Linked DNA regions of Homo sapiens: region 2 is linked to region 1. The links come from fine-mapping of genetic effects on gene expression. Tissue or cell type: whole blood. Region 1 holds a variant in brackets; the other region holds the start of a gene. All regions are shown on one strand. Distances are between the middles of the regions.

Evidence for each region.
Region 2: SLC35B3 starts here. The variant in region 1 is fine-mapped to the expression of SLC35B3 in whole blood (TOPMed, PIP above 0.99).

Annotation. Positions count from the first base shown.
Region 1 is chr6:8,395,203-8,406,531 of GRCh38, reverse strand. No RefSeq gene overlaps it. Among named protein-coding and RNA genes, the nearest start is that of SLC35B3, 35 kb to the left of the region's middle. RefSeq lists enhancers at 1-137, 1,234-1,403, 1,924-2,093, 8,897-9,066 and a cis regulatory region at 2,008. The variant T/C (reference allele first, on the strand shown) is at 5,864.
Region 2 is chr6:8,431,040-8,442,368 of GRCh38, reverse strand. It overlaps SLC35B3 (solute carrier family 35 member B3), which reads left to right and starts at 6,824. Exons shown (of 10, transcript NM_001370479.2): 1 at 6,824-7,026. LOC100506207 (a long non-coding RNA gene) reads right to left here and starts at 6,746. Exons shown (of 5, transcript NR_038980.1): 1 at 6,191-6,746; 2 at 4,338-4,429. RefSeq lists enhancers at 6,427-6,516, 6,597-6,676, 6,617-6,786, 6,987-7,046, 6,543-7,084 and 2 more.

The DNA.
Region 1 (11,329 bases):
AAGTTGCTGCATTTCCACCCCCCCACACTCCCCAACCAAGAAAGAGGCACAGGTCCTAGCAGGTGTATTTGGATTTTGGAGGCAACACATTCCTCATTTGGGTGTGTTAGTCTGGCCCATTTATCGAGTGACCCAAAAGGCTGCCAGTTTTTAGTGGGGTCTAGAACAGGAGAAGGCTCTGCAACAGGTCCAAGCTGCTGTGCGAGCTACTGTGCCACTTGGGCCACATGACCCAGCAGATCCAATGGTGCTTGAGATGTCAGTGGCAGACAGGGATGCTGTTTGGAGCCTTTGGCAGGCTCCCATGGGTGAATCACAGCAGAGGCCTCTAGGAACAAGGCCCTGCCATCTTCTGCAGATGACTACTCTCCTTTTGAGAGACAGCTCTTGGCCTGTTACAGGGCTTTGGTGGAAACTGAATGTTTGACTATGAGTCATCAAGTCACCATGCGACCTGAACTGCCTATCAAGAACTGGGTGCTTTCTGACCCATCTAGCCATAGAGCAGGTCGTGTACAGCAGTATTCCATCATCAAATTGAAGTGGTATATATGTGATTGGATTTGAGCAGGTCCTGAAGGCACGAGGAAGTGGCTCAAATGCCCATGGTCTCCACTCCTGCCACCCTGCCTTCCCTCCTCCAGCCTGCATCGATGGCCTCATGGGGAGTTTCCTATGATCAGTTGACAGAGGAAGAAAAGACTAGGGTCTGGTTCACAGATGGTTCTGCAGAATATGCAGGCACCACCCAAAAGTGAACAGCGGCAGCACTACAGCCCCTTTCTAGGACGTCCCTGAAGGACAGTGGTGAAGGAAAAATCTTCCCAGTGGGCAGAACTTCTAGCAATGCACCTGGTTGTGCACTTTGCATGGAAGGAAAAATGGCCAGATGTAGGATTATATACTGATTCATGGGCTGTAGCCAACCGTTTGGCTGGATGGTCAGGGACTTGGAAGAAGCATGATTGGAAAATTGGTGACAAAGAAATTTGGGGAAGAAGTATGTGGAGGGACTTCTCTGAATGGTCAAAAACTGTGAAGATATTTGTATCCTATGTGAGTTCTCACCAACAGGTGACCTCAGTGGAGGAGGAATTTAATAATCAAGTGGATAGGATGACCCGTTCTGTGGACACCACTCAGCCTCTTTCCCCAGCCTCCCCTGTCATCATGAACAAAGTGGCCACGGTGACAGGGATGGAGGTTACTCAGGGGCTCAGCAACATGGACTTCCACTCACCAAGGCTGACCTTTCTATGGCCACTGCTGAGTCCCAAATTTGCCAGCAGCAGAGACCAACACTGAACCCTAGATATGACACCATTTCTCAGAGTGATCAGCCAGCTACCTGGTGGCAGGTTGATTATATTGACCCCTTCCATCATGGAAAGGGCACAGGTTTGTCCTCACTGGAATAGACATTTACTCTGGATATGGGTTTGCCTATCCTTCACGTAATGCTTCTGCCAAGACTACCATCCGTGGACTCATGGAATGCCTTTCCACTGTCATGGTATTCCACCCATCACTGCCTCTGACCAAGGCACTCACTTTACAGCTAAAGGAGTGTGGCAGTGGGCTCATGCTCATGGAATTCACTGGTCTTACCATGTTGCCCATCTTCCTGAAGCAGATGGATTGATAGAAGGTGGAATGACCTTTTGAAGTCACAATTACAACACTAACTAGGTGACAATACTTTGCAGGTCTGGGGCAAAGTTCTCCAGAAGTCTGTGTATGCTCTGAATCAGTATCCAATATATGGTACTGTTTCTCCCATAGCCAGGATTCATGGGTCCAGGAATCAAGGGATGGAAGTGGAAGTGGCACCACTCACCATCACCCCTAGTGATCCACTAGCAAAATTTTTGCTTCCTGTTCCGGCGACATTACGTTCTGCTGGCCTAAAGTTCTTAGTACCAGAGGGAGGAATGCTGCCACCAGGAGACACAACAACGATCCATTAAACTGGAAGTTAAGATTGCCACCTGGACACTTTGGGCTCCTTCTACCTTTAAGTCAATAGGCTAAGAAGGGACTTACAGTGTTGGCTGGGGTGATTGACCCGGACTATCAAGATGAAATCAGTCTATTACTCCATAAGAGAGGTAAGGAAGAGTATGCATGGAATACAGGAGATCGGTGCCTCTTAGTATTACCATCCCCTGTGATTAAAGTCAATGGGAAACTACAACAGCCCAAGCCAGGCAGGACTACAAATGGTCCAGACCCCTCGGGAATGAAGATTTGGGTGACTTCACCAGGAGAAAAGCCACAATCTGCTGAGGTGCTTGCTGAAGGCAAAAGGAATACAGAATGGGTAGTAGAAGGTAGTCACCAATACCAGCTACGACCACATGACCAGCTACAGAAACGAGGACTGTAACTGTCATGAATATTTCCTCCTCCTTTTGTTAAAAACATGTTTATGCATGTATACACTTGTACTAAGAAAATATCTTCATTTTATTTCCTTTTCCTTTATCATGTGATGTAAGATTATTGACTTCATATCAGCATTTAAGTATTGTTAACTTTATGCAATAGTATTTGGGTTGGGGATTGGTGCATTTCCAGTTGTATGAAGGATAGTTGTATTATGTTAGGCATAATTATGACATTATTGTCTTTATTTGAAGATTATGTATGATCTCAGGAGATGTGTATGGGTTCAAGTTGACAAGGGGTAGACTTGTGATGGTTAATACTGAGTGTCAACTTGATTGGATTGAATGATGCAAAGTATTGATCCTGTGTGTGTCTGTGAAGGTGCTGCCAAAGGAGATTAACATTTGAGTCAGTGGGCTGGGGAAGGAAGACCCACCCTCAATCTAGTGGGTACCATCTAATCAGCTGCCAGCAAATATAAAACAGGGAGAAAAATGTGCAGGACTGCCCTAGCCTCCCAGAAAAACGCGAGACTGACCTAGCCTCCCAGCCTACATCTTTCTCCCATGCTCTCCTGCCCTGGAACATCAGACTCCAAGTTCTTCACTTTTGGAACTTGGACTGTCTCTCTTTGCTCCTCAGCCTGCAGACAGCCTTTTGTGGGACCTTGTGATCATGTAAGTTAATACTTAATAAACTCCCCTTTTCATATATATATAATATATAAATATATATTATACATAAATATATATAATATACTCATATATATAATATACATATATATTTTATATATATATATATATATATATATATATATATATATATATATATATATATCCTATTAGTTCTGTCCCTCTGAGAGCCCTGAGTAATACATGTGACATTTGACCTAACTCTGGGTAGTTAGGATCAGAATTGTACTGCAGGCATTATGCTTGTTAGCTATCATTAAAGAACTATTAGCATTGTCTGAACTGTTATCAAATGCTTTTAGTTTTCCCAAGTGTTTTTTACCTTAAACCTACTTTATATTCTAGATTTTGAACCCACTTTACATTCTAGATTCTTATTTGATCAGTAAGCCTAAAATTTTAGTAAAACTTGACCAGTAATGGGCCAGTAATGTGGCTTAGCACACTGCAAATATGTATGCATTACAAAATCACATTTACTCTTATATACATAGTTGCAAACACTAGTTTCCATGTCCTTATGATGCATCACCCTCCTGGTACATCCATGTGTTCAAGCCAGGGAAGCTCTCCCAAGTCTTGGTATATGGTTTTTATTGGAGTTTCACTATACAGCCCATAGGATTGATTAAATCAGTGGCCATGTGACTGAACTTTATCTTCAGCTGTCCTTCCTTCCCCAGAGGTTGGGTTGGTATTGCATGGCTCAAAGTCCCAAACCTCATGGCTCAAAGTCCCAAACCTCATGGCTCAAAGTCCCAAGCCTACGGTCACATCATTAGTCTTTCCAGCATGGCCAGCCCCAACTCTAAAACTAATTACATGGTTATCAAATCATCAGGTTATACATTGTGACACTCAAAACCTTTGCTGTGTGTTTTCTTCCTGATTAAACACTTGATAAGTTTTCTGTATTATGTGTTTGAGCAAAAATATTTTACATTTTCACTTATTCTGCTTTATTGTCCCTATTGACTGTCCCTATACTTGCCCATTGAACCAGCTGTCTTAACATTTGTAAACAGCTAATGTAGCCTCACTGATATGACTGCTCTATTTTTACTATAATGTCATTTATTCATTCATCTTCACTGGGCCAAATATGAGCCAGGCATTATACTAGATGCTGAGGATGCAAAAAGAATAAACTATAACCCGTACTCTTGAAAAACTTCCAATCTATGGAAGATTTGCTATGATTGTTATATAAAAACACATCACATTAACCCTAAGTTTTCAGAATATTTCGCCATGGTGGTAGTACTTCTAAAACCTCAGTGTGCACATGTACCACCTAAGGATCTAGTTTTTTAAAAAGAAAAAACAAAGGATTTGAATTCAATAGGGTTGGGTGGGGCATGAGATTTTGTTCTAACATACTTCCAAGTGATGCTAATGTTGCTGGTCCATGGACCATACCTGGAGTGTCTAGGGTGTAGCATACAAACTTTCAGAAGTTTTCAATATCAGGACATCTGAAATTATCAGAATAATTTTCACCCAAGTTTGTTCCATTTGCTTTTCAAACTTCACATTCTCGGTGGCCTGCCCTAGCAAACTGAACAGCAATCTTATGTTGGAGAGTTGCTGGCATAAGCAGAAAGAGTTTTTTAATCATTGTAGGTGTTTGAAAGATTTAATATTCATGACTTTCTCTATAAATGTTACCTTTTTAAAAATCTTCATGAAAGTAAGATAAACCTGTAATTCTCTTCCAGTCATGGTCTGTTGTTTTAATTTCATGGCATGTAGTTAAGATAGTTTTTATGCTATTTTGTAGTGACATTATGAAGAAAATGTTCACATCAATGATTTACTGCTGTTTCAGAATGAACTGTGAATTACAGGGGTTTAGGGAAGTAGGTCTTAACACTTAAGGGATTCTTCTGAGTCTAATCACAAAAATGTGTTTTATTAAATATCTTAATCCTATGATAACCCCCCACATTTCTAAAACATAATTAGACCATTTTAATCAGTTTTTACACAATTGATAAGATTTAAATAGATAAGTAAAGAAATGTGGATAATTTTTCACTATAGAAAATAATAGCAATAAGACTTTGGAGTCTGATTATTCTAGATCTCATTATAGGGCTCTTCCCCAATTATTTTTCTCCTAGTACCAGTTACAGTGACAGAAATAAAAAGCAGATCAATTAAAATGTTTATTGTGTTTCATTTCTGACTCAACAGTGTATAAGCACTTAGGAATTGGTTGGGGCACTTAGGAATTGATTTTTTTCATACATTCCAAAATTCAATGATAGATAGACCTCAATTGTAATTGTTTAGAATAATTTTTGTATATAAACCAGAGACATTTCATAAACACAGGTAATCATCTTTTTCTCTAGTTTCTAACTATATTTTAATTGATGATGTTGGTCTACAATATCTGTGTTAAGCACCACAGAATCATAAAATCTCAGGACTGTTTGGATGCTTGGCCACCTTTCTTTAAATCAAAGAAGACATTTGAAATGTCTGCTCTTAAGAAGGTTTGATCTAACAGGGTGAGGCTGGGGGAATTTACTGTAAGATGTGTATGAACCATAGCTAGTTTGAATCATCCATAGCCAGTTTGAGTCATAGAGATGTCCATCTCTAAACAACTGGAGTTATGCTGGATTCAGGAGAAGCATAGAACCAGGTGTGCGGCTGCACTGTTTACATAGGTGATTGATTAGGCCTAACTAGGTCCATGGCTAGGGCACCAGTAAGAGTGTAGATTCACAGGCTGATAGTCCCACACTGAATTAAGAGATTTATTGTTTTAAATG[T/C]CCTAGCTATTTGGTAAATTCTGCAAGCTAATCTTACTAACATACACTTTATTTGTTCAGTTATTTCTTAGCAGTTTGCCATTCTCATAAAACTGAAGCGTGGGTAGTGATTTTTTTTTTCATAATTCTAAGGGGTTATCTGTTAACACAGTTTCTAGGAATATCTAATAGTTTGATTATTTTTTCTCCTCCACCTCTGGGACTCCTATACATGTTGGCAGTTCTACTTTCATCTACATATCCCTAAGCTATTCTCTTATGGTTTCCATCTCTGCTGTTTCTTGCTGCTTCTGAGAGAGTTTCTCAGTCTGGGCTTTCAGTGTACTAATTTGTTCATCTGTTCAACCTGCTGTTTATCTCCTTTGTCATGGTCGTGTTTTTTATATTTCAACCCTTATGTATTCAGACCTAATATTTCTACCTGGATTTTTAAAACGATTTATTGGTTTTGCTTTATGCTACCAGTATTGTTCCTAATTGTGTTATTTTTTATCATGGTTATTTTAAATTCTTGGACTCTCTTCTAATCATTCTGTTTTCAATGGTAGATATTTTTCAGTTGTCTTTTTTTTTTTTAACAGTAATTACACACTTTAGCATAGCCATTGGCAGTTTCTCTCCAAGCCTTCTCACTGCCTTCTGCACCTTGCTGCCTTCTGTGTTTCTAGTCTATAACTCCAAGATTAAAACAGCCTCAGTCTCCCCAGAACATCTCACTTTTGGTATTGTTTTGTTTTTTCCTAGAATTCACATCTGTCTGTCTGAATCAGTATGTCTGTCTTCCTCTCTCTCTCTCTCTCTCTCACTGTCTCTCACCCTCTCTCCTATCCTTTCTCCCTACCACGCCACCCTCCCCCATCTCCTAGTTCCTCTAGGATTGTTTTTGGAAGAAACCAGCAGCCTATCCTAGCTCACCATCTTGACAGGAGCCAAAACTCATTAAAAGAGAATTTCTCCCAACTCTTTGTCTTAGTGATTTATACTACTAATGATTCTCAGATTTGCCTTTCTAATACAAATGAAAACTTGCTGGCCGCTATCTTGATGCAATCTATTTCAGAAATATTGGTTCATTTACCAGTTTTAATTGGTAAAATTCAAATTTTGGAAGTAAGATTTGTAATGTTTTATTACAAATCTAATTACTAATTTAAATGTAATTTTGAAATATTTTACTAACTTAAATATAGATTTCAAATCTTCTAGGAGAAGACTAACAGAAATATAAAACAGAATTCAGTCCTAAAATATGTCTCATATTATGGCTAATTAGGTAAGATTGTTTTTAATACATAGGCATAATTGTTTGTGATAGGAAAACTTCACCATAAAGCTTTGATTATTTGAGATGGTACCAATTAGTATACTTTGTAAAATTTCCTAATTTTGCTATTGTCTAATGCATATCATTTGTACAAAGTGATTTGAAACAGGCAGGGAAGCAGTAGTTTGTATTTTGAAGACATGGAAACAGACCTCAAGAAGACAAGTGATGTACCCAAGGTTCACACATAGTAAATGGCATAATGCACCTAAATCGGTTTCTTTGACTCTGATGCCTAGCTGATAACCCACCACTCCTCAACTCCTGCTCTTTCCAGCCACAACAGCACCAGGTTAGGACTGGCATCCTCTCCAGCTGTTTGTGTCCTCTCAAAATCCTGACACTGCCTTCCTTCTCAGGACCATGTAAAGGGAGCAAGACTTTTTCCAAGGAAGGACTTTTGTGGACACTCCTGCTGTCATACTTACTAACCCACCTAAGAAGATTAGCATCTTGAACCAGGCTTTAAGAGAATGCACAGAGGTGAAAGAAGAAGGGATTTCCTGCCTGACATCCCCAGTCAGCCAAATCGACCTGTGCTTGAGTGAGATGGCCTATATAGGTAGACACTTCAAGTCATCTACCAGCAGGTAATGGGACTCAACCATAAAGAGAGGTGTTGAAACGGGGCAACTGGGAGTAAGGGATAGAATCCAAGGACCAGTCAGGATTTTACGTTGAATTAAAGTGAGATACTTTGTAAAGCAGCCAAGGCAAATGTAGTCAAGACAGAGAGGACATCACTGGAAGTACAAGGCAAGACAGAAGCTTAATCTTGGGGAAAAAAAATAGAGTGTAGGCGTCAAAGTCAGAGAAGAAGCAAAGGGAATCTGGCTTGCTTAGCTGTGAACTCCTAGGTCATTTTGTCTCTCTTAGCAAGAGATCCAGTTGGGACTACAGATGGTCCCCAATTCACTGTGGTTCAACTTTTGATTTCTTGGCTTAATGATCAAGAATGTGTGAAAGCAACATACATTCTGTAGAAACTGCACTTCGAGTACCCATACAACCATTCTATTTTCACTTTCAGTACAGTATTCAATAAATTACACTGACTATTTAACACCTTATTATAAAATAGACTTTGTGCTATATGACTTTGCCCAACTGTAGACTAATGCAAGTATCTAAGCACGTTTATGGCAGGCTGGGCTAAGCTATGATGTTCCGTAGGTCAGTTGCAGTAAGTGCATTTTCAAATTAGGATATTTTCAACTTATGATGGGTTTATAAGGATGTAACCTGTCATAATTCGAGGAACACCTATAAACTTAAAGCTGGAGCAGGGATTAAAAATAATTAACACTGGAAATTTTTAAAATATGGGATCTAAGTGCCAGATCAGAAGTTGTACTTAAGGATTTTATGTGCCTCTCCTGTGTTAGCTGGAAATGTCACCACAATAAGAAAGAGGAGACTCTAGAATTAGGAAGAAATACTTCTGAATTACTGTCAGTAATATGATAACAGTTAGCATAAATTGCTTGATTTTACTGTGCTTCACTCACCACACTGAAAATGGGGTGATTAAAAATACCTTCTTGATAGAATTGAGTTTTCTTCTTTATGATAGTTTTGTTAATAAGTGATATGTAATTTGAAATTATAATATTCAAAATTCAAATTCCATGATCCTAAGCCTTTCTAAGCATACAACTTTGCTTATGAATAGACAAGACTGTTCAAATGATGTGGCTATAATAGCAGAAGGCTTTATTATGACCTTATGAACAGACATTTCCTGGATGGCAGAGCACTATCATAAAGGGTCCAGCTCTATTTCTATGTGAGTGAACACAAGTCCACTCAATAGTTCCATCTAAACTAACTCTTTCAGAAGGGTTAATAGTAACACTCCATGGACCCACTTGACCTCTCCACTTAATTTTGAAAAGTATGAATTATCCACTATTGTAGCAACCACTGAGAAAATCATAAGCTTTCCTTTCCATTTTTTTTCCTGTGACAGCCATTGACCAAATATGTATTGAGCAATTTGCAAGTCTCTTCAGAGATATGTAAATACATATCTATGTTTATGAGATAGATTATATATCTGCCTCACAACTCCTTCACTTAATTATCTCAAAGTTTAGTGAGAAGCAGGCATAGAGTTATGGTGCGTTAATTTCTATAATGTGAATGTATATGAAGTGTAATAGGACTATTCTGAAAGACTTTTTCTAAGAGGTAGCATTTAAGCAAGTCCAGGTAAGACATCGTGAGGATCTAAATACACACTCAGGCATTGGAGCTGGTGAGGATGGAACCAATAATAGGGATATCTAGAGGGTAATTGATAGGGAGGGGATGAGGGAGAGGAAGCATCTTAGAATGACTTTTGCAGTTCTGACTTGGAAAACTGGATGAATGTTACTTGCTGAGATACACAATTCAGGAGAAAGAGTGTATTTGCTGTTGGGGAGAGCAAGTTGAAGCATAGTTTGGACATGACTGAGTTTAAAGTCTTACTTTGGAACCTCCAGATGAACAATTTCAGAAAGCAATGATAATATGTAGTTTGAGAGGCCTGGGAATCTGGATTCGGGAGTTAAAATAATGAGCATGAGTAAGATTGTCAATGTTGTTTTTTTAAGTGAAGAGAGTGTTTACAAAGCCTGAGGAACACTGATGTTTAGTGGTGAACAGAGCAAGAGGGACCTGCACAGGGGCTGAAAATGAGAAGTCAGAGAAGGAGAAAAGCGTGATCTCAAGGAGCCAAAAGAAGGAGAAACAGGTCAAAAGGGAGGAAGTTGTCAGTGCCGTTTTTGAGATACATGAAAAAATTTTTAAACATGATCAGCATAAAGATGGATTTATAACAATTAGATTTCTTTACTGACCCTAGATTCTTTATAATGCAAACAAATATTTACCATATTCTAATTTTTTCTTTAATTACAAAATAGAATTTTTGAAAAAGATAAAAATGTATTTTATACTAATCATATGTGAATTCAAGATATTTAAAAAGAATATAGACTTTCTGTACAAACAGCCCTAATTTGAATTCCAGCTTCATAATTAACCTGGAGCAAATTAGTTACCTTCTCATTTTCTTCATCCAGAAAAATGGAATTAGCACACCTTTACAAGGTGATTTTGAAGATCAAACAAAAAATGCACATAAAAGAACAGCCTATTTTTTATAAACATTTATTATGTTTTAAGCATCTATTTTAAGAAGTGAGGAAAATATTCAGCAAATGAAGCCCAAAGAAAGCAGAAAGAAGTATGTAATAAGAGCAGAAATTAAATAGTAAATAAAAATATACAATTAAAAAAATTAAGGCCAGGCCCAGTGGCTCACCCCTGTGACCTCATACTTTTGAGAGGCCAAGGTGGGAGGATTGCTTGAGACCAGGAGTTTGAGACCAGCCTGGGCAGCATAATGAGACCCCATGTCTAGAAAAAATAAGAATTTTTTTTTTTAAATCAGCAGGGCACAATGGTGTATGCCTGTAGTCCCAGCTCCATGGAATGCTGAGGCAGGAGCATCATTTGAGCCCAGGAGATCAAGACTAAAATAAGCTGTGATTGTGCCACTGCACTCCAGCCTGGGTGATAGAACGAGACTCTGTCTCAAACAAAAAAAAAAAAAAAAAAGAAAAGTTGATTTTTTTTTTAAGAATTAAAATTAATAAACTTCTGGGTTGTCTGATCATGAAATTAAGAAGATAAAAATGTGTAGTATACCTGAAATGAAAAAAGGATATTACTGCATGTTCTATGAACATTTAGGAAGAAGAAAAGAATATCTTAAAGCATTTTATGCCAATAAATTTGAAAATTTAGATAAGAACAACTAATTTCTACAAAAATACAGTCTACCAAAACTGACATAGGAAAACACAAAATTTGAATAGTTCCATATATGTAAGTACCTACAAAAAAACCTACTGTAAGCATGATATTTAATGATAAGTTATAGAAAGTATTTGGTTTGATTTCAGAAATAAGTGTGTATTCCTGTTACTAGTACATTTATTCAACATTGTACTGGAGGTCCTAGCCTGTACAGAAAAAGCCAAAAAACAAGGAAGAAAAAACAACTGCAAGGAAAAAAAAGTATATTCACAAATGACACAATTATGTACACACAAAATCTAAAGCAATCTACAAATACACTATTAAAATTAAAA
Region 2 (11,329 bases), 36 kb before region 1:
TTATCTTACGTAAAAACAAGCTTTAGCAGTTCCCACCCACTTGCTCCTACATCCCTGGGAGCCATCTTTATTTTTACTCCACACCCACCTGGCCACAGAATTTAGCCTTCTTTAAATTCATCTGAAATAATGCACCTATGCAGGGCATTAATGAACAATGCAGATTTACTGAAGCTTTTTAAGAATATGAAGTGGTGGAATTATAAATCACAGCCTCCATAAAACAACTTAAATACTCCAGTTAGATACAGAACCTATAGTCTCCCAAAAGCTCCCTTCTCAGCCATACCACACTGGTGATTCCCTTTATTCTCTCCCTCCTTCATTTGTTTGTTCTTTCTTTCTTTCCTTCTTTTTTCTTTTTTTTTTTTTTGAGACAGGTCTCACTCTGTCACCCAGGCTGGAGTGCAGTGGTGTGATCTGGGATCACTGCAACCTCCGCCTCCCAAGCTCAAGGGATCCTCCCACCTCAGCCTCCTGAGTAGCTGGGACTATGGGCATGCATCACCACACTCAGCTGATTTTATTTTTGTTTTGTTTGTTTGTTTGTTTTCTAGAGGCAGGGTTTTGCCATGTTACCCAGACTGGTCTTGAACTCCTGGAATCAAGAGATCTGCCTGCCTTGACCTTCCAAAGTACTGGGATTACAGGCAATGTGAGCCACTGCGCCCAGCCTGGATTTTCTCTAGCACTTTAAACTTCATCACCTTCCAAGTGGTGAACAAGAATTAAAGTGCTCTAAAATTCCATTGTCCTGAGTGGTAGATAGTAGTCATATGTGCTACTCTGAGCACTTGAAATGTGGCTGGTCCAAACCAAAATATGCTGGAAGTGTGAAATACACACTGGATTTCCAAGATTTTGTATAAAAAAACAGATGTTAAAGTATTTCATTAACAACTTTTTATATTGATTGCATGTTGAAATGATAATATTTTGGTTATATTGAGTTAAATAAATATATTATTAAAATTAATATCACCTTTTTTTTTTTTTTTTTTGAGACAGAGACTCACTCTGTTGCCCAGGCTGGACTGCAGTGGCATGATCTCAGCTCACTGGAACCTCTGCCTCGCTGGTTCAAGCCATTCTCCTGCCTCAGCCTCCTGAGCAGCTGGGATTACAGGTGCCCGCCACCACGCCCTGTTAATTTTTTTTTATTTTTAGTAGAGATGGGGTTTCACCATGTTGGCCAGGCTGGTCTTGAACTCCTGACCTCAAGTGATTCGCCTGCCTTGGCCTCCCAAAGTGCTGGGATTAGAGGCATGAGCCACCACACCCGGCCTCATTTCACCTTTTTAATGTAACTAGCAGAAAATTTAAAGTAGCTTCCATGGCTTATATTATATTCCTATTGGACAGCACTGTTCTGGAAATAAAAAGAACTTCATGTTAATAAGACTAACCCTCCATGGAAGGCAGTTTAAGAATAATCTTCTAAGAGGCTAATCGAATTACTTCTTACAAAAAGAAAACAAAACACAGAAACTTTGACCAAAAAGGGATTCAAAAGCCAGGTGTTAAACGAGCAAAATATTTCTCCATCTCATTACACATGCTACCTCTTTATGAAGAATTTTGCCCCATGCCAATTATCAGTACTGGGAAAGAAGAGGAGTCATGGCTGGTGTCCAGGTGGCCCAGTTCTGTGAACCTCTATCCATTTAGGAGACAGCAGAGAAAAACTGATAGCCCTGGAAGTCAAGCAACCTACAGGGGAACTGAATCTATAACCACAGCCTCATTAGCATAGCCTATAGCTCCCATTGCATCCTGTAGTTAATACCCTTATCAACACAAATCACACTATAATTACTTGTGTAATTAATTATCTCCACCACACAAGGCTGTGAGCTTTGTGAGGGCAGGGATCCATGTCTGTCTTGTCATCCACATATCCACAATACCCAGTAGCATGCAGAGTAAGTGCTCAATAAGTATTTATTAAATGGATATTTAATGAAAATCAAATTAACTAGTTTTTCTGCTCAGTGCATCTGGAACCATATATCTATCAATGAACTTCCTAGTTTGGAAATGCTATATAACCTATTCCTTATGGAAGAGCTAGAAAAGTGACAACTGATGACTATATATAAATGGATTATTCTAATGATAGTAGGCTATATTAATAAGAATATTAATAGCTAACTTTTACTAAGTGTTTGTCAGGTAATAGGTGTTGTGCTAACCATTTAACCATCTTTAAACATCTTTCACTTACTCATCACTACAATTTACCACATAGGTACTACTGTCATTCCCATTTCACAGATGGGGAGATTGAGACTTAGAGAATTTAAGCAATTTGCACAAAGACACTCAAAGAGCAAGGGGTGGTGCAAGGATTTAAATTTAATCTGACACTAGAACCTGAGACTTAACTATGCAAGATGATTCTTCACAGACACATGACTAAGTAACACCAATTGACACGAACTGACATTGTTGATCACTCCTTCCTCCTTTAAACATTGTCTTCACCTGGCTTTTAGAAGACTGTACATTCCTGGACCCATCCTATGTCAACAGCTGCTTCTTCTAAGTCTCCACTGCTGGTTTCTCTTTCTCGCTCCCCCAAGTCACATGACTTGATTATCTAGGACATCCTAAAATACATAAAAACACCTCCCAAAAATTGCTCCTAGGAAATGGAAGGCATTTATCCATAGGTGCCCATTCCCCATTGGTGGATCATTGCCTGGGGGTGTTAATGCCACCAAACTTCCCAAGGGCCAGGTGTGTGTGTGTGTGTGTGTGTGTGTGTGTGTGTGTGTGTGTGTCAGGAGTGACGGCATCTCAACCCTATCTGAGCACTGTTCCTGAAAAGGATACTTGCTGATGTTCACAAAACAATGTCAGTGTTCTATCAGGCCAATTTCCTCCAGTTGATACAATATATGGTAGGACCAGTGGAATTCCATGGTCGTGTGTCATTGTCACACCTCTTTTACCATAAAGTGTGTCCTTTAGTTGGAGGCAATACATCAGAAAATCATGTGTTTGGGCTGGGTGTGGTGGCTCACGCTTGTAATTGCACCACTTTAGGAGGCTGAGGTGGGCAGATCACTTGAGGTCAGGAGTTCACAACCAGCCTGGCCAACATGGTGAAACCGTGTCTCTACCAAAAATACAAAAAAATTAGCCAGGTGTAGTGGCAGGCACCTGTAATCCCAGCTACTGGGGAGGCTGAGGCAGGAGAATGGCTTGAACCTGGGAGGCAGAGGTTGTGCCACTGCATTCCAGCCTGGGCAACAGAGTGAGACTCTGTGTCAAAGAAGGAAGAAAGGAAGGAAGGAAGGGAGGGAGGGAGGGAGGGAAAGAGAGAAAGAAAGAGGAAGGAAGGAAGGGAGGGAGGGAGGGAGGAGATGGAGGGAAGGAAGGGAAAGAAAGAAAAAAGAAAGGAAGGAAGAAAAAAGAAAAGAAAGAAGGAAAAGAGAGAGAGAAAGGAAAGAGAGAAAGAAAGAAAGAAAAAGGAAGGAAGAGAAAGAAAGAAAAAGAAAAAGGAAGGAAGGAAGAGAAAGAGAAAGAAAGAAAAAGAAAAAGGAAGGAAGGAAGAAAGAAAAAGAAAGAAAAAAAGAAGGAAAGAAAGAAAGAAAGAAAGAAAGAAAGAAAGAAAGAAAGAAAGAAAGAAAAAAGAAAGAAAGAAAGGAAGGAAGGAAGGAAGGAAGGAAGTCAATCAATCATGTGTTTGTAACTCTGTTATATAATGGTACTGGCAGAGGCACCATGAACAAGACCAGTCATATCAAGGGAAGTGTCAGTTCCGTAAGTACAAACCACGGCTCTCTCCAGGAAGGAAGGACTTTTGTGTAATTGCTCTCCTTATGGAATTTACCATCAATCTTTGCTGCTGATGGGCTGGACATCCAAAGAGGCAGTAGTCATATCGGCTTTAGTAAGAAAGAGCCTTAATTGTTGGGCCATGCACATGTCCTCCCCTTAATATCACTAAGAAAGTCCTTGTTGTCATCTGACTGCAAAGTAACCCACTTCCAGAGTTCTGAGGAGCTGCATTCTAGACTTTCTTCTTACATCAAATTTCTTAGCTTGGTTTCCCTCAAAACCTGAGACAACTACTTATGTGGGGACAGGTAATTTGGGATGTGATCCTAGTGAGAAACAATGAGAGAATGGAAGGGAGAATATAGACATAATACAAGAATGTGTTATTGAAGTTGCTGTTGTGAGAAACCAGAACCCAATTTCACTGGGACTTTTTGAAAAACACACAGAATGGCCTACAAAACTATCTTGCTCAAGTGTAAGAAGCAAGAGCATTTATCCATCAGTGACTGTCACCCCTTGGTTGAAGGGCCCCAGATGTGTTGACTTACCAGCACTTCAAAGCTGTGCAGGACAGGAGCTGAGAGAGCTACTGCTGGAATGTGTGAAGTCCGAAGAACCTCAGGGAAGAAAGCAAAGAGGCCTGGTAAATGTGGGAGAGGAGAAGCTGTCAGGGAGAAGAATGTGTAAGATTGCATGAAACTGCCCCCCACAACCAAGTCAGAAATGAGAGGTGATGCTCAGAAGATGTGAATCAAGACACCAAAGGTTTCTGATACTACAGAATTATTAATTTCTTAAAAATTTAAAACCAATTCATAGGACCAGGCGCAGTGGCTCACGCTTATAATCCTAGCACTTTGGGAGGCTGAGGTGGGTGGATCACTTGGGGTCAGGAGTTCGAGACCAGCCTGGTCAATAAGGTGAAACCCCATCTCTACTAAAAATACAAAAATTAGCCGGGCATGGTGACAGGCGCCTATAATCCCAGCTACTCGGGAGGCTGAGACAGGAGAATGGCTTGAACCCAGGAGGCAGAGGTTGCAGTGAGCTGAGATGTGCCACTGCACTCCAGCCTGAGCGACAGAGTGAGCCTCTGCCTCAATCAGTCAATCAGTCAATAAAAAACAATTCATAGCTGCAAGTCTTTAATTTTGTTTACCACGTGGTTATCACAGGAGTAAATGGGAAGTATTGTAAGAGAGTCGATATTTATTAAACACCTACTCTATAATAAGTACTACTCCAGATAGTCTCTCCTACATTTCACATTTGACATGTAAAAATATTTCACTGACATGGTAGTCAGAGAAGAGCCAGGTGACATTTGAGCAGTGACTGGAAAAAAATGAGGAAGCAAGCTCTGTGGACATCTGAGAGGGCAGTGTTCCATGCAGAAGGAACAACAGCTACAAAGCACTGATGCTTGCTGTGCTTGGGGGCAATTAGAAAAGCTCTGAAGTGTAGCTTGGATGTGATCCATCAAGAATAAGTTCAGTCTTAAAAGTCAGGGTAAGAATTTTGAACTTTAATCTGAGTAAAATGGTAAACCGCTAAAAGGTTCTGCACAGAGGAGTGGCATATTCAGGTTCTAATGGGATCACTCCAGCTGCTGAATGCAACTATGTAGAGAAATAAAGGGAATGCAGAAAGCTATGCTCACGGCTACTGCAATTGTCCAGGCATGAGCAGATGGTACCTTGTAACACCTCTTGTACCTTAAGTTGTTTTATACTGCCATTTACTTTCTCATGGAAACCCCTAATTTCTTCAGGACAGGGAGCTCATACGCATAGTTTACGATATGAGCTATACATATGCCCATTTAATAAATACTTGATAAATAACCACCATATAAATGGCTAACAGTAGTACTAAATTCACATTATACAGTGACGATATGGCATCACTGAAAGGTTTTGTCATTTACTATCTCTTTAGGAAATTTAAGTTCTCTAAGCCTTAATTCCAACATTCCTAAGTGTTGCTAACACCAGCCTAACAACGTTGGCAAGTATTAAACGAAAATGTCTACCCAGACCTTTTTTTCTCACCACCAAAGTAGGTGCCTTGCTTTCTTACAAACCCTCGATCCCAATACAAGACACAAATGCTACCCTTTCTGAAGAGTGCCTGTAAAATTTTAAAAGTTGTCCATAACTGACTGGATTCTAACATACATATTAATCCAATTCATCCCTTTCTGGTATTCAAGGCATGCTTTCAAAAATTGTCCATCTTCGTTACAGTAATATTTTCCTTAATTATTCTCTGAAAACAGCTCATCCCCAAACCGTCTTGGTTTTTACGTTATTACATCTCAGTGGTGATGGATGAGGCCCTAAACGCGGGGAAAACCTTTTACAAAAGTTTTGATGGCTGGTCCTCAAGCTTTGAGATTTACCTTCCAAGAATTAAGCAGCACTATCGAAACAATGCTGGCAACATTTTTATGAGGTTGCAAGGACCACGGTTGCTGCAGCTACAGGATGAGTTATAACGTCAGAAGCAACCCAAGCGTTACTTCAGGCCCATCTTCACCGGAGAAGCCCGTATGAATCAGGCAAAAACATAAAAACAGGTTCTGTGACTTTGCCGTATCTCATTTAGATCAAGTAGCACGCAGAAGGAAGACAAGGATTTTAAAATCTGGCTCCAACATTCTCCACTTGGTCGCGTTCTCAAATCTCAGCCCAGGGCCGCTGACGTAAAGTCGCCTCTCTCGTGGGCACCACGGGCTCGAGGGTAGCCGGCAGCTGAAACCCGAGGGGCTTCAGAGGCTTGGAGGCCAGGAGCAGGCAGAGCGCCGATGGGATAATGAGATTCTCCAGCAGATCGGCGCTCACCGACCTACTCCATTTCAGTGGGTAGAGGTAAAGGCTGAAAGGCGACCCTCGCACCGCCCGGCCCACCTAGGCAGTGCCGGCCTAGCGTCTCTACCCCATAGAGCATGCGCGGGAGGTAACGGCCCGCCCGCCACCGGCCACACAGGCCTGTCGGGAGGCGGGGCCACGCGTCTGCGCACGCGCGCAGGGACACATAGGCGGAAGTGGCCTGCGGGCGCCGGAGTTGAGAGTGCTTTCCGGGGAGGCGACCGCCGCGGTGGAAAGTGCAGGAGTGGGCGAGGAGGAGGAGGAAGAGGAGGTGATGGCGACGGACCAGGGGAGGGGGAGATGCTCCGTCTAGCTCAGACGCCACGCAGGCTGCCGTCACCCTTCCGGGTGACATACCGGCCTTGGGGTACGCGTGCCTTCGGGGCCTTTCCTGTGTTTGGGACCCAGATCTCCTCTCCTCCAGAAAACCTTGACACTGCCCATCTTCCTCATCCAGAAGGAGCGTTCGAGGAATGGATGAGGTCGGGATGGAAGAAACGGGTGATTCCCTTTTTTGAAAGAGCGGAAACCGGCCGGGCGGTTTCCAGGGAGGAGCATCTGTTCCTCCTCGCCCGTTTTTCGCCCTCGGGCTGGCGAGAACTCCCTCAGGTCCCAATCCGTGGACTCGCAGGGGTGAGGTGACCTCAAGGGGTCTTTTACGCTGTTCTCGGGGTCTCTGGAGAACTGTCAGTCACCTGGATACCTCTAGACTGTATTTACAGTTAACTGTTTCCTCGTTCCGTGTTTATTAAATAGGGGCACTCCAAGGTACTCTTTTCTCCATTTGGCTTGCAGTAGAATGTGATTGTTCTGGCTGGGCTATTAAGTTTATGGCATAAACTTCCACTAGAAGTTCTGCAAGTTTCCTCCAGTCTTTGCAACTGAATTATCTCTCCCGTCTTTTTATTATTTAAGGAATATTGAAAGTAAAAGATGGAATGATTTGGTGCGCTAACAAAATCTTAAGTGTTGAGTATCTGCATTTTTTCTACATTAGGATATCAGAAGCCTAGAATTGTTTTTTGATTAAACGTTTTTCTAAGTGAATTGAGATAGTTTGGAACTTGGAAGAGAGGCAGCATTTCAAAATAATTTAGACAGCGTTATTTTTACTTAATTACTTAATATATAAAGTCCTAGTGTTAACTTTTTCTCTTGGAAAAAAAAAAGAATAGTCTTCAAACATTAGCACAGGGTTTCTCCACCTTTGTGTAATGATGTGTGTACAAAGAAATGAGATGGAACTTTGTTTTTTCTGTTTTATAATCGTACACCATAGGCCATGATTGATTCCGGAGCGCAGTTAATCAAGGCATAATGGCATGGTAAGATTCTTTTATTTGTAACGTTGAGTGTGGCAAAGTATAGTTAAAATCACGTTTTTTCAGGTTAATGACACCGTAATGACTTTTTTTTCATATTCTACCTTTTTTTGGTGTGGGACTTTTGTCCTTCAGGTCGGAAAACTCAAAAATAAACTGAAATAATTGTGACTTCAATAGGTCATTGTAACTCAACATTATCACTAATTTTAATTTTTAAATATACATTGTATGCCGGAAATGCTACCTTTTTATTCCATTTTAGCAGTTGAAGTTGAATATCTGTGTTGAATTTAGGAAGAGGCCTCAGGCAATTATACACACCTGTGATTTTTAAAATATATATATATATATTTTAGTTTCACTGATTACTGTGAGCTTCAAAAGCAAAGCACAATGTTGATCATTTAGTCTGAAAACTAATTTTAATTCCATGCTTCATTTTTGCTCCTTGCATCACAAGGAGTTTGGCCCATTTTTTTTTTTAGATGATGGTTAGTATCAGTCATTAATGTTTGAAGTGGAAGGGATATGGCAGACATTCCCCAATGATCACAGTTATTAGGTATCAGAGGTCTTTATCAGTCACACTTTCTCACCAGTGATGTTCTTATTAATAAAACAGCATTCTAAATGCAAGGCTTTGGTGGGCAAGTTTTATGAGACTGATGCCTCAGGCAGAGGAAACAAATTTATTTTCATGTTCATTTCAAATGTTTTGTGGGGAGTTTCAGTAGCAATGTCGGTATTTTGGCATACATGTAGAAAAGACAGTGCTAGAGAGATTTCATTCTGCACATATGGCCTAGATCTGCAGCACATAAAGTTGCCAAGAAGTGTATTAGAAGTGGTAAAGTGTTGGAAAGGAGCTGAATAACGTTGATTAAATAAATGGTGCTTGCTAAACTGTGGTAGAGTCCTTCATTTAATCTTACATTTTTGTTATGTGCCAGAACATCATAGGAAGATATCTCTTGCCTTAAGGATTTCATAGGCTTTTAGGAGAAACAAGTATAAAAACGAAAAAGCTATACCATTATCATTTAGGAATTTGAAAAATATGTATAATATGATTGAGTCCAGGACATCAACTCGTTTTTAACTTCGAGGCCTTATTCATGGATGCAGCATGATCAGACTTCACGTTGAGCCATGTGACAGATGGGTCAGAAAGGGAAGAATTGATTATAAACAGTCTCGTAATCTAGGCAAGAGAAAATGGCTGCCTGATGGAGTAGGGTCCGAAACAGATATTAGATATAGTTATAGAGGTAGAGTTAACAGGAATCTTGGCAAAATATAGAATGTGAGGAAAAGGAAAGATTCTTAAGATGACTCCCAGATTTTTAGCTTGTGTTTCATACTAGGTACTGTTAAGTGAGATTGGGAATATAGGAACAAACAGTAGATTTGTTTTGAGGGGAAAATAATCAGCTTTGGCCATTTTAAATATGAAGTGCCAGCAGAGCTTATGAGTAGAGGTATCAAAGAAGCATTTAGACGTAGAGCTCTGGATCTCAGGAGAGAAGGCAGCGTTGGAAATTCAGGTCTGTATTTCCAGCTGCACATCAAAGGGGTGAGTCAGCTTGAGCACACCATATCACCCTAGCAATATTTCTAAAAAGTTGAAGGATGACAGCTAACACACTTATGGACTGTCATATGCCAGGCAATTTTACATTTATTTCATATAGTCCTAACCAAAATCCTGTGATAGGCACATTTTTAACTCCTCCCACTTTTGAAGGTGCAGAACCTAAAGCTCAGAAAAGTTAAACGATTTGCCCAAGGCTCCTCAGCTAATAAGTAGTAAAGCCAGATCTTGAACTCATATCTGTCAAAATTCCAAAGCATGGGGAAAGCATTATGCTATACTGCTTTCTTATACTATTACCTATAATTGTATTGAGTCATTACAATATGCTTGGCAGTTTACTAAATTACAAACATCTCAGAAGAAGGTGACTTTGGGAAAGCGTGACCTTCTGGAGAAATGTTTTGATGCCAATAAAAGCAGGAAAGAAAGATATTTTCTAGAAGTTTTATTTATTCTGTATGTATGTGTAAATATGTAAGCATTATTTGTAAATTTTCCCCACTCTTTTTCTATAAGATTTTCAGTTTTGCTCATAAAGTTTGCCAGTACCACCATCCATTTCAAAAATCGTATCCAAGCAGAAGGTGAGTGATTGCAAGCTGAAGTTTGAGGGTATCAAGAGGAAGGATCAGTTTATTTGGTTCATCTGAATATCAGGTCAGAGTATATGCCAGGTACCAAGGACACAGAGACAAATAAGATTTGAATCTTGCCTTTCAAGTTCTCTTTTCTAATAACTGGGGGGATTAGTGATGGTGTCACAAAGGAGGGGATATTAAAGCTGAACTTCCAAACCTGACCTTGAGAAAGAAGACCTCAGGCTGAAAGGACATCATGAACAGAAGGCAGCGGTGTTTTAAAGTCCCTGGTGTATTTCAGGAATGAAACATGGGTGGTTTAGGGCTTTATTGAGAGTGGAGGGAGAGCAAACTTAGAAACCTATGTAAGGCCGGGTTTATTTGAATGGTGCACTATATCCATGCTCACACATAGAAAAGAGTAAATTGTTAAGGTTTTCGTCTCTTCTACATTCAAGCACAGGTTTGACCAAATATTTAGGAGAGATAATTTAAAGCATGGTTTTAAAAGAAAGTCACATCTCAAAGATACCCTGCAAGATTACATAAAAAGTCTTACAAATGACAGTGATTGAAACATAATGTGGGAAGCAAGAACAAAGGAAAGTGAAGAATAAACAAGAGGAACACAGTAAACTTCATGAAACAACTTTTCTATTTAGAAATAAGGCAGGTGCCCTATAAAATGTTGTGGTGGCTGCATATTTTTAGTTACAAGTGGTATTCAGATCCTTGACCCCTCCTTTAATTCCTAAGGATGACCTGGTTAACCTCTGTAAATTAGCAAACTAGAAGTGATCATGAAGAGGCGACTCTAATTTTGGCCATTTTAAGCCATCTTGTAACAGTTTAAAAAAACATTACCAAAGGAAAACTCACTGTCAAAATTATTCTTATTTCTCTTCGTGCCGCAGAGTTTAAATTTTTGTTCCCACTGGAATTAAAAACAGATGAGTCGTTTCTAAGAAAATAACTTTTTCTTTTACATAGGTTTATTCTATACTTTGTCATAATTCTTCAGTCTTTCCTCAGTCTTTACATGGAGTTCATTTTTTCAGTTTATATAAATCCAAAGAGAAATTGATGGCTTCATAATTTTTTTTAGACTGACAAAAAATGACATGTTTTCTCCAGCCTTTTACATCCCAGAAGAATGTAAATTAAAATGATTTG